Linked DNA regions of Homo sapiens. The protein of the gene in region 1 purifies or fractionates together with the protein of each later gene. This does not show direct contact. Each region holds a gene or a part of one and is shown on either strand. Other genes may lie near its edges.

Region 1 (3,500 bases):
TTTTTAAGTAGAGACGGGAGTCTTGCTATGTTGTCCAGGCTGCTCTCAAACTGCTGCCTCAGAGGTTGAGATTACAGTGTTGAGATGAGTTGCCTCAGTGTTGAGATTACAGATGTGAGCCACCACACCTGGCCCCTTAACTCTTTTAAACCTTTTAATATAACAGTGTAAAGGGTTAATCTTGTTCATTTTAATAATGAAGAAACAGGTTCTGAGAGGTCAAATAGCTTTCACAAGTAGTAAGTGGTAGAGATTTAGAAATTTATATCCACAACCATCTTCTGTGTAACTTAATGGAGAAGTCAAGTACACACATGAATAATGGGTATGCGATATATATAGATATATATATATGTGTATATATGTATATTGTATATATACATATATATACGTGTGTGTGTGTATATATATATACATATATATATACACACATATATATATATACATATATATATATACACACATATATATACACATATATATATACACACATATATATATATATATATTTTTTTTTTTTTTTTTTTTTTTTTTTTTGAGACAACATATCTCTGTTGCCCAGGCTGAAGTGCAGTGGCGTGATCATAGTTCATTGCAACCTCAAACTCCTGGGCTCAAGTGATCCTCCCACCTCAGCCTCCTAAGTGGCTAGGACTAGAAGTGCCTGGCTAATTTTTGTCTGTTTGTTTTTGAGACGGAGGCTTGCTCTGTTGCCCTGGCTGGGGTGCAGTGGTGCGATCTCGGCTCACTGCAGCCTCTGCCTCCCAGGTTTAAGCTATTCTCTTGCCTCAGCCTCCTGAGTAGCTGGGATTACAAGTGCCTGCCACCATGCCTGGCTAATTTTTGTATTTTTAGTACAGACAAGGTTTCCCCGTGTTGGCCAGGCTGGTCTCGAACTCCTGACCTCAGGTGATCCACCTGCCTCGGCCTCCCAAAGTGCTCGGATTACAGGCGTGAGCCACCGGACCTGGCCAGCAGGTAACATTTATTAAGTATCTACTATGCCTTAGGCATGGTGTTAATGTATAACTATTATGTTTAATCCTTACAGCAGTTTACAAAGTACCATAGGTGGTATGCATAATGAAGCAGATCTATTGATGTATTTACTCAAGGTGATTAAGCTACTAGGTAGTGGAATTCTAGTGGGTCTAGATCTGGACTTGATGGCTGAGTTCTTACTAATATACCTTGCTACTTTGGAAGAGGAATAGAGTTTCAACATGTGTTGGGCAGAATATTCAAAGCTAAAGAAATAGCTTGCACAAGGTAGGGAGATGGGAAAGTGAAGTGTCTGTGGTGATGAACTGAAGAGTATTGAAAGTGGACAATAAGACTAGAAAGGTAAATTAAAGCCAGATTTTGGAGGCCTTTCAAAGCTGTTCACAATGTTTAAACTTTAATCTGTAGATGAGGGGAGCCATCAAAGGATTTTTCAACTAGGGAGTGACACTAGGTTTCAGGTTTGCTTCATTAGCAGTATGGAGTATGTGTTTGGAATCTCCACAGGGGTCAGTACAGAACAGGATGACACTGCTAGGAGTTGGTTCTCAATATGTTTCTTCATTTGGTATATTGAAATCAGTAAAAGTAAAATATTTTGGAAATCTCAGGTTTCCTGTATTTCAATTTTTTTATGATGTTATTTGGTTAGAACTCCCCAAGGCATTTTATTTCATATCATGTTTCTCAGCCCATTTGATATCTTCCAGGATTTTTCTACAGTTCTCCACTTCTGTTTATTTTGGAACCAGTTGAATATGAATAACTATTGCAGACAATTGTTTTCAGCTATTTCAGATGGGAAAGAATAAGGACATAGGTTTTAAGGAGAGCTAATGCAGGTATGTGGAAGGTTACTTTTATTGGCGTTCATTTTCCCAAATTTCCAAATATAGCAGACTCTCCTAGTGTCTTGGTTTACTGCCTCTAGGTTGCTGTTTGAACAACTGGAGAAGGATGACATGGACAGAGAGAAGGGGGAATTAAAGGAGTTATGCAGGCCAGCAGAGGAAGAAATGATCCCTTTTCTGCTTGCACAGGAGGAAGAAATTTATGACCCTCATCCTTTTAAATGATAGCCTGAACGCTGGGCTGTAGAATCAAATTTATAAGTCATTTTGAAAATCTTTCTTTTGGCTTCACCTGACTATATTACCTAAAGGAAAAAAAAACACATGGTGCTTTTTGTTCATGTATTTAAAACAGAACATACAGTGGTCCATTTGAGGGTTTTTTGCCAGAGAATTTGGCACTGTTGAGAAAACAAGAGCTTTGAAAATCCAGGCAAACATGACTTAACTTTTCAACAGCTTATGGTGAGTTCTGTGATCTTGAACAGGTTCTCACTTCTTTGAACCTCTTTCATTTTCTATAAAATGGAGATACTGGCCGGGCGCAGTGGCTCACACCTGTAATCCAAGCACTTTGGGAGGCCGAGGCTGGCAGATCACGAGGTCAGGAGTTCAAGACCAGCCTAGACAACATGGTGAAACCCCGTCTCTACTAAAAATACAAAAAAATTAGCTGGGCGTCGTGTCAGGTGCCCATAATCCCAGCTACTCGGAAGGCTAAGGCAGGAGAATTGCTTGAACCCAGGAGGCGAAGGTTGCAGTGATCCGAGACCGCACCACTGCACTCCAGCCTGGGCAAGAGCGAGACTCTAAAAAAAAAAAAATTGGAGATACTATTATCTAGTTCACAACATTCTTTTTATTTTTTACTTTAAAAAATCTAGTAGGCTGGGTGCCATAATCTCAGCACTTTGGGAGGCCGAGGCAGGCAGATCACTTGAGGCCAGGAGTTCGAGACCAGCCTGACAAACATGGTGAAACCCCGTATCTACTGAAAATATAAAAATTAGCCAGACATAGTGGCATGCACCTGTAATCCCAGCTACTCGGGAGGGTAAGGCAGGAGAATCACTTGAATTCTGGAGGCGGAGGTTGCAGTGAGCCGAGATCGTGCCACTGCACTCCAAGCCTGGGCAACAGAGTGCGACTCCGTCTCAAAATAAATAAATAAAAATAAAAATACAAAAAAAGTTAGCCCAGTGTGGTGGCACAGGCCTGTAATCCCAGCTACTCAGGAGGCTGAGGCATGGGAATCACTTGAACTCAGGAGGTGGAGGTACCAGTGAGCCAAGATCGTGCCACTGCACTCTAACCTGGGCAACAGAGCCAGATTCTGTCTGAAAAAAAAAAAAAAAAAAAAAAAAAAAAAAAAAATCTAATAATACATGCTTGTTGGAAGTTAGCAACATACAATTGTATTTTAAAAAGTAATCAAATCTTATTTTATTTCCCCATTCTAATTCCAGGTTTGTTGTTTATCTTTGTGTATTTTTGTCTTCTGCATACACAGCTTAATGTGGAAGCTCTCTTAACCTTAACCTTCACTTGACTGATTAATTGGAGCAGATATCCTCCTTTTCCTAAACTCTATTCTGTAATATGTTCAAGCATTTCTGCAAACTCTACTCTGTAATGCACTCAAGTGTC
Region 2 (4,026 bases), on another chromosome or scaffold:
AAATAATCATTCATGTATTTAAAACATAACCTCCTCACCCCCACCCCCACATAAACAAAACAATCACATGACTACTTTGTAACGCCAATTTGGATACTACAGTTTTTTTGTTATTGTTGTTCTTTTTCAAAAAGATTGGAACCAGAAACAGCAAGCTTATTTCCAAGAAATCCTGCCTCTGAAAGGTCGACAGAAGGGCTGGCCACTTTCCATTGGTCACTCCAACCCCTGATGAGGGAAGGAAATGCCCTCTTGGCCTTCTGTCAAAGGGCAGTACCTGAGGACACCGCCAACTCCCAGACTCCTCACTGATCATAAGGAAGCGAGCCAACTGAGCTGTGTCAACGTGTAACATGCAATTCCCCTTTCTGGGGACCTTCAGCATATCAAGAGAATATTAAAAACCCACAATTACAATAGAGGCCCAAAGGTAGCCTTGGACAGGATGAGGAAACCAAATACAAACTTCCTACTCATGACATCCTTAAGTAGCTCAACCGAGAACCTCAGGCACCAAGCAAACAAATGGTTGGGAAACGCTCATTGGCTGGTTAATGGGCATACATGCTTCCTTAACTGTGTCTCTGCTCTCTTCTGTTTTTATGCATCCATACTCATTTTTTATGATGACTGAAGAATGAGATAGCTGACACTAAAACAACAGTACCACCTTACCGATTGGTCAGCAAATCCGTGAGAAAGAACACTCTCTTTTTGCCCTATACTCTTGCATTGAGAGAAAAACAAATTGGAAATTACTAGCTTGTCAGAAAAAGCGCAACAAAAGGCAAAATACAGAATAAAGACCAAACTCATCTCCGACTCCTAATTACTGAAGGACAGTGACACCGAGTTCACTACTCATTCCCCACTCTCTGTATATAAAGTTTCCTTCACTTTATTGCTCTACTAATCAGTTTTTACCCCAGCCAATGATATTCTTAAATTATAGATATGGTCAACATTTAGTGGGCCTATCTGTTGAAGAAAATATGAAAAATGTGTAGTTAGTGATGGCTACTAATGAATATGTATAGACTGCCCAAAGTGATAATTTTGCCAAGTCTGTTGATTATCAGAAATGATTTTTTTCTTTAATCAACAATATGCTATCTAATAAATTGATTCTATTTACTTTCCTCATCTCCAGGGCAGTGATCTCTCTCACCTCCTTTAAATAGTCATGAGCCCCACAACTACCTTTCAGCCCAGGACAGAGGGGCACACACGACAGTGGTCTATGAGACTATAATACATATTTTTACTCTACCTTTTCTACATTTAGATGCGCAAATACCATTGTGTTCAGATTGCCTCTAGTATTCAGTACGGTAACATGCTGTTCAGGTTTGTAGCCTAGGAGCACTAGCCTCTACCTGATAGTCTAGGTGTGTAGTAGGCTGTAGCATCCAGGTTTGTGTAAGCACACTCTACAATATTCACACAAGGAAGAAGTCGCCTAATGACTCATTTCTCAGTAGGCGACTGTCCTGAAGAGATGCATGACTCTAATTAAATGCTACCTTCTCAATGAAATCGATTCTGATCACCCTATTTAAATTCACAACTGGAGACCCATTCCACTTCCCAAGCCTTATCCTATTTTTCTATACCAGGCATCGAATTACGAATATATAAAAATTATTTGTATATATAAATTATATATACATCAATTATGCATACGTATATCCACACACACATATTTACTGCGTCTGCTCTGCTAGAATTAAGCTCCAGAGGGAAGATTTTGTGGACTGATATATCTCACACATCTAGAAAAGCGCCAGGGACAGGGCAGACGCTAGGACTCCACGAATTAATGATTCCATCAGAATTTGAAATCAAACTGTAAAGCAATCCCTTCATTTCCCAGAGCTTTGCTGCTCAAACATACACACCCCTTCCCCTTGAACGCCCAACAGGCTGGGCGCTGCCAAACAGAACTCCTGGAAGGCGGCGCCCAAAAGCAGACCCTAGGAGTGGGCGGGCACCAACTCCCCGCCCCAGCACGCACCTCCCTCCAACTTTAGCGCCCGGGATTCCCAGGAATTCGTCTCTTCTGGGCTAAGCCCCGCCACCGCGGCCGAGCAGGGCGGGCCCGGACCTTCGACCCACGCTCCGGGCAGATGCCGGTGGCCTTGGAGGACCCGCCCTCCGGCCTGCCGGGCCTTTCCTCGGGGAGGCTGTAGCTGAGATCCCCGCCCCGCCGTCCAACCCCGCGAGACGAGCCCCCTCTCCTCTCCCGCCCGGGCCTCACCTCTCCTGCAGGAAACGAGTGCAGGCGCCGGGCCGTGGTACTGGGGAAGGGCGCCGGCGGCAGCGGCGACGCCCGGTGAGCACCTCCACGCGCTGCTGCGCCCGGCCGGGGGTGCGGCATACCCGAGGCGCGAGCGCTCCCAGTCCCCGAGCTGCCGGCGCGGGGCTGCGGCGGCCAAGCGCGGGGAGGGCACTAGCAGGAGGAGGAGCAGCGGTGAGGCACGTGACACGCCGCCGCGGGCCGCCGGGGCGCGAGGGCGCAGCGCCCCCAGACCGTCGGAGAGCGCAGAGAGGCAGCGGCGTGCTGAGGTTTCGCTGCCGCCCGGTCTTCCGCTGAGGCCCACGGGCAAGAAGAGAAGCCGCTGGCGGCCGGGCAGGCGCTGGGTCCTCTGGCCGCCGACCGAGCCGCAGTCCATCCCCGAGCAGTTCACTGGCCCGGGCGCGCGCTCATGCCTCTCGCTTTTGGCGCCGGCCACGCGCGGTCCAGGCCCAGAGTCCGACAGCGGGAGCGAGCGTGGGCCACAGCGCAGGACCGCCCTTTCCTGCCGGGCGCGCGGGCGGGGCTCGGGACGCGCGCCGGGGGTGGGGTGGGGCGGGGCGGCAGGAGCCCGCCGTGGCGCTCCGAGATGCGGGGACCGTGCGAGCCCCCACCCCATTCGCTAGGCGACGGCGGCGACCGGGAGGAGCCTGCGGGCACTCCGGAACTGGAAGGAGCTTGTTGCTGTCACGATTTGCATTTTCACTGCACTGCTGTCCTTAAAAAGGAATTACCCCGGTGCCCTTCAGAGTCCTGTGAAAAGTCTCAGACCGACAGGCTGCCCTAGATTTCACTGATTATCCTAAGTCCCCAAACATGTGGTTCTGGGGAGCATTTTAAGGAATTATTAGCAGGGCCCAGGGAAAGGCCCTCACATAATACATTCAAAACTAAATTTTCAGAGTTTTTGTTTCCAGATTAGAGCACCAAAAACATGGGAAGGTAGCAATCTGGGAACTTAAAACGTGGGGCATGAATGTTAAAATGAGACCTGTCGGGTATATTTGAAACTGGTAATGTTTAGTTTCGTGGACTTTTTGAAGGCCTGTTACACCATTCACAGATAACTGGTCCCTTATGTGAATTTGGAAGATGTTAGTTGAATAAATAAATGAAATGCATAAGGCACCAAGCTAGGAGATTTTATTAAAAATAAAAAACCGCAAAACAAATTGTTCTTATCCTCCAGAAGCTGTTTTCCTATACAGCCATATGTGTACACATACGTGATGGAAGAATGTGTTATGAGCCATGAGAGATGTACAAAGTGCTGGGAAGAGAGGAGCGTGCATATGGATGTGCAAGATAAGTGTCTATCAAAATTTGAAGAACTGAAAAACAGGATTCAAGTCATAGGTTGGTGCAAAAGTAGTTGCGGCTTTTGCCATTGCAAGTAATGGCAAAAACCGCAATTACTTTTGCACCAACCTAAGACACTTTTGTAAAAGGAGTATACATTTATAAAATTGGTAGAAAAAGCAGTTTAGCAATGAGTATCAACAAAAATTTGTAAACTTTTCTCAAGTCACCTAACTAAAAATGGGGATAATGGGAATAATCCAAAATATTAAATATCTACTAGGTTTGACTATACAAACTTGTCATTTTTATGGGTCAAAATGCTTAATATTGGTAATTTCACATATGCACAAAAGATAGTCATTGTATCATAATTTGTGATTGTGAAAAAATGGGAAAATAGTGCACAACATTAGAGGAACGATTAAACTGTG

Evidence for each region. The genes of interacting proteins can lie anywhere in the genome.
Region 2: the proteins of FAF2 (region 1) and MCUR1 purify together in Homo sapiens (affinity purification with mass spectrometry; 3 studies listed by BioGRID and IntAct, with this or other methods). This does not show direct contact.

Annotation. Positions count from the first base shown.
Region 1 is NC_000005.10:176,451,385-176,454,884, forward strand, and holds part of FAF2 (FAS-associated factor 2), read left to right. Parts: intron 1-930; exon of another isoform or gene 931-1,844; intron 1,845-1,933; exon of another isoform or gene 1,934-3,500. UniProt on the Homo sapiens protein: Plays an important role in endoplasmic reticulum-associated degradation (ERAD) that mediates ubiquitin-dependent degradation of misfolded endoplasmic reticulum proteins.
Region 2 is NC_000006.12:13,811,758-13,815,783, forward strand, and holds the start of MCUR1 (mitochondrial calcium uniporter regulator 1), read right to left. Parts: upstream 2,801-4,026; 5' UTR 2,673-2,800; coding exon 2,258-2,672; coding exon of another isoform or gene 2,015-2,257; intron 1-2,014. UniProt on the Homo sapiens protein: Key regulator of mitochondrial calcium uniporter (MCU) required for calcium entry into mitochondrion. Plays a direct role in uniporter-mediated calcium uptake via a direct interaction with MCU.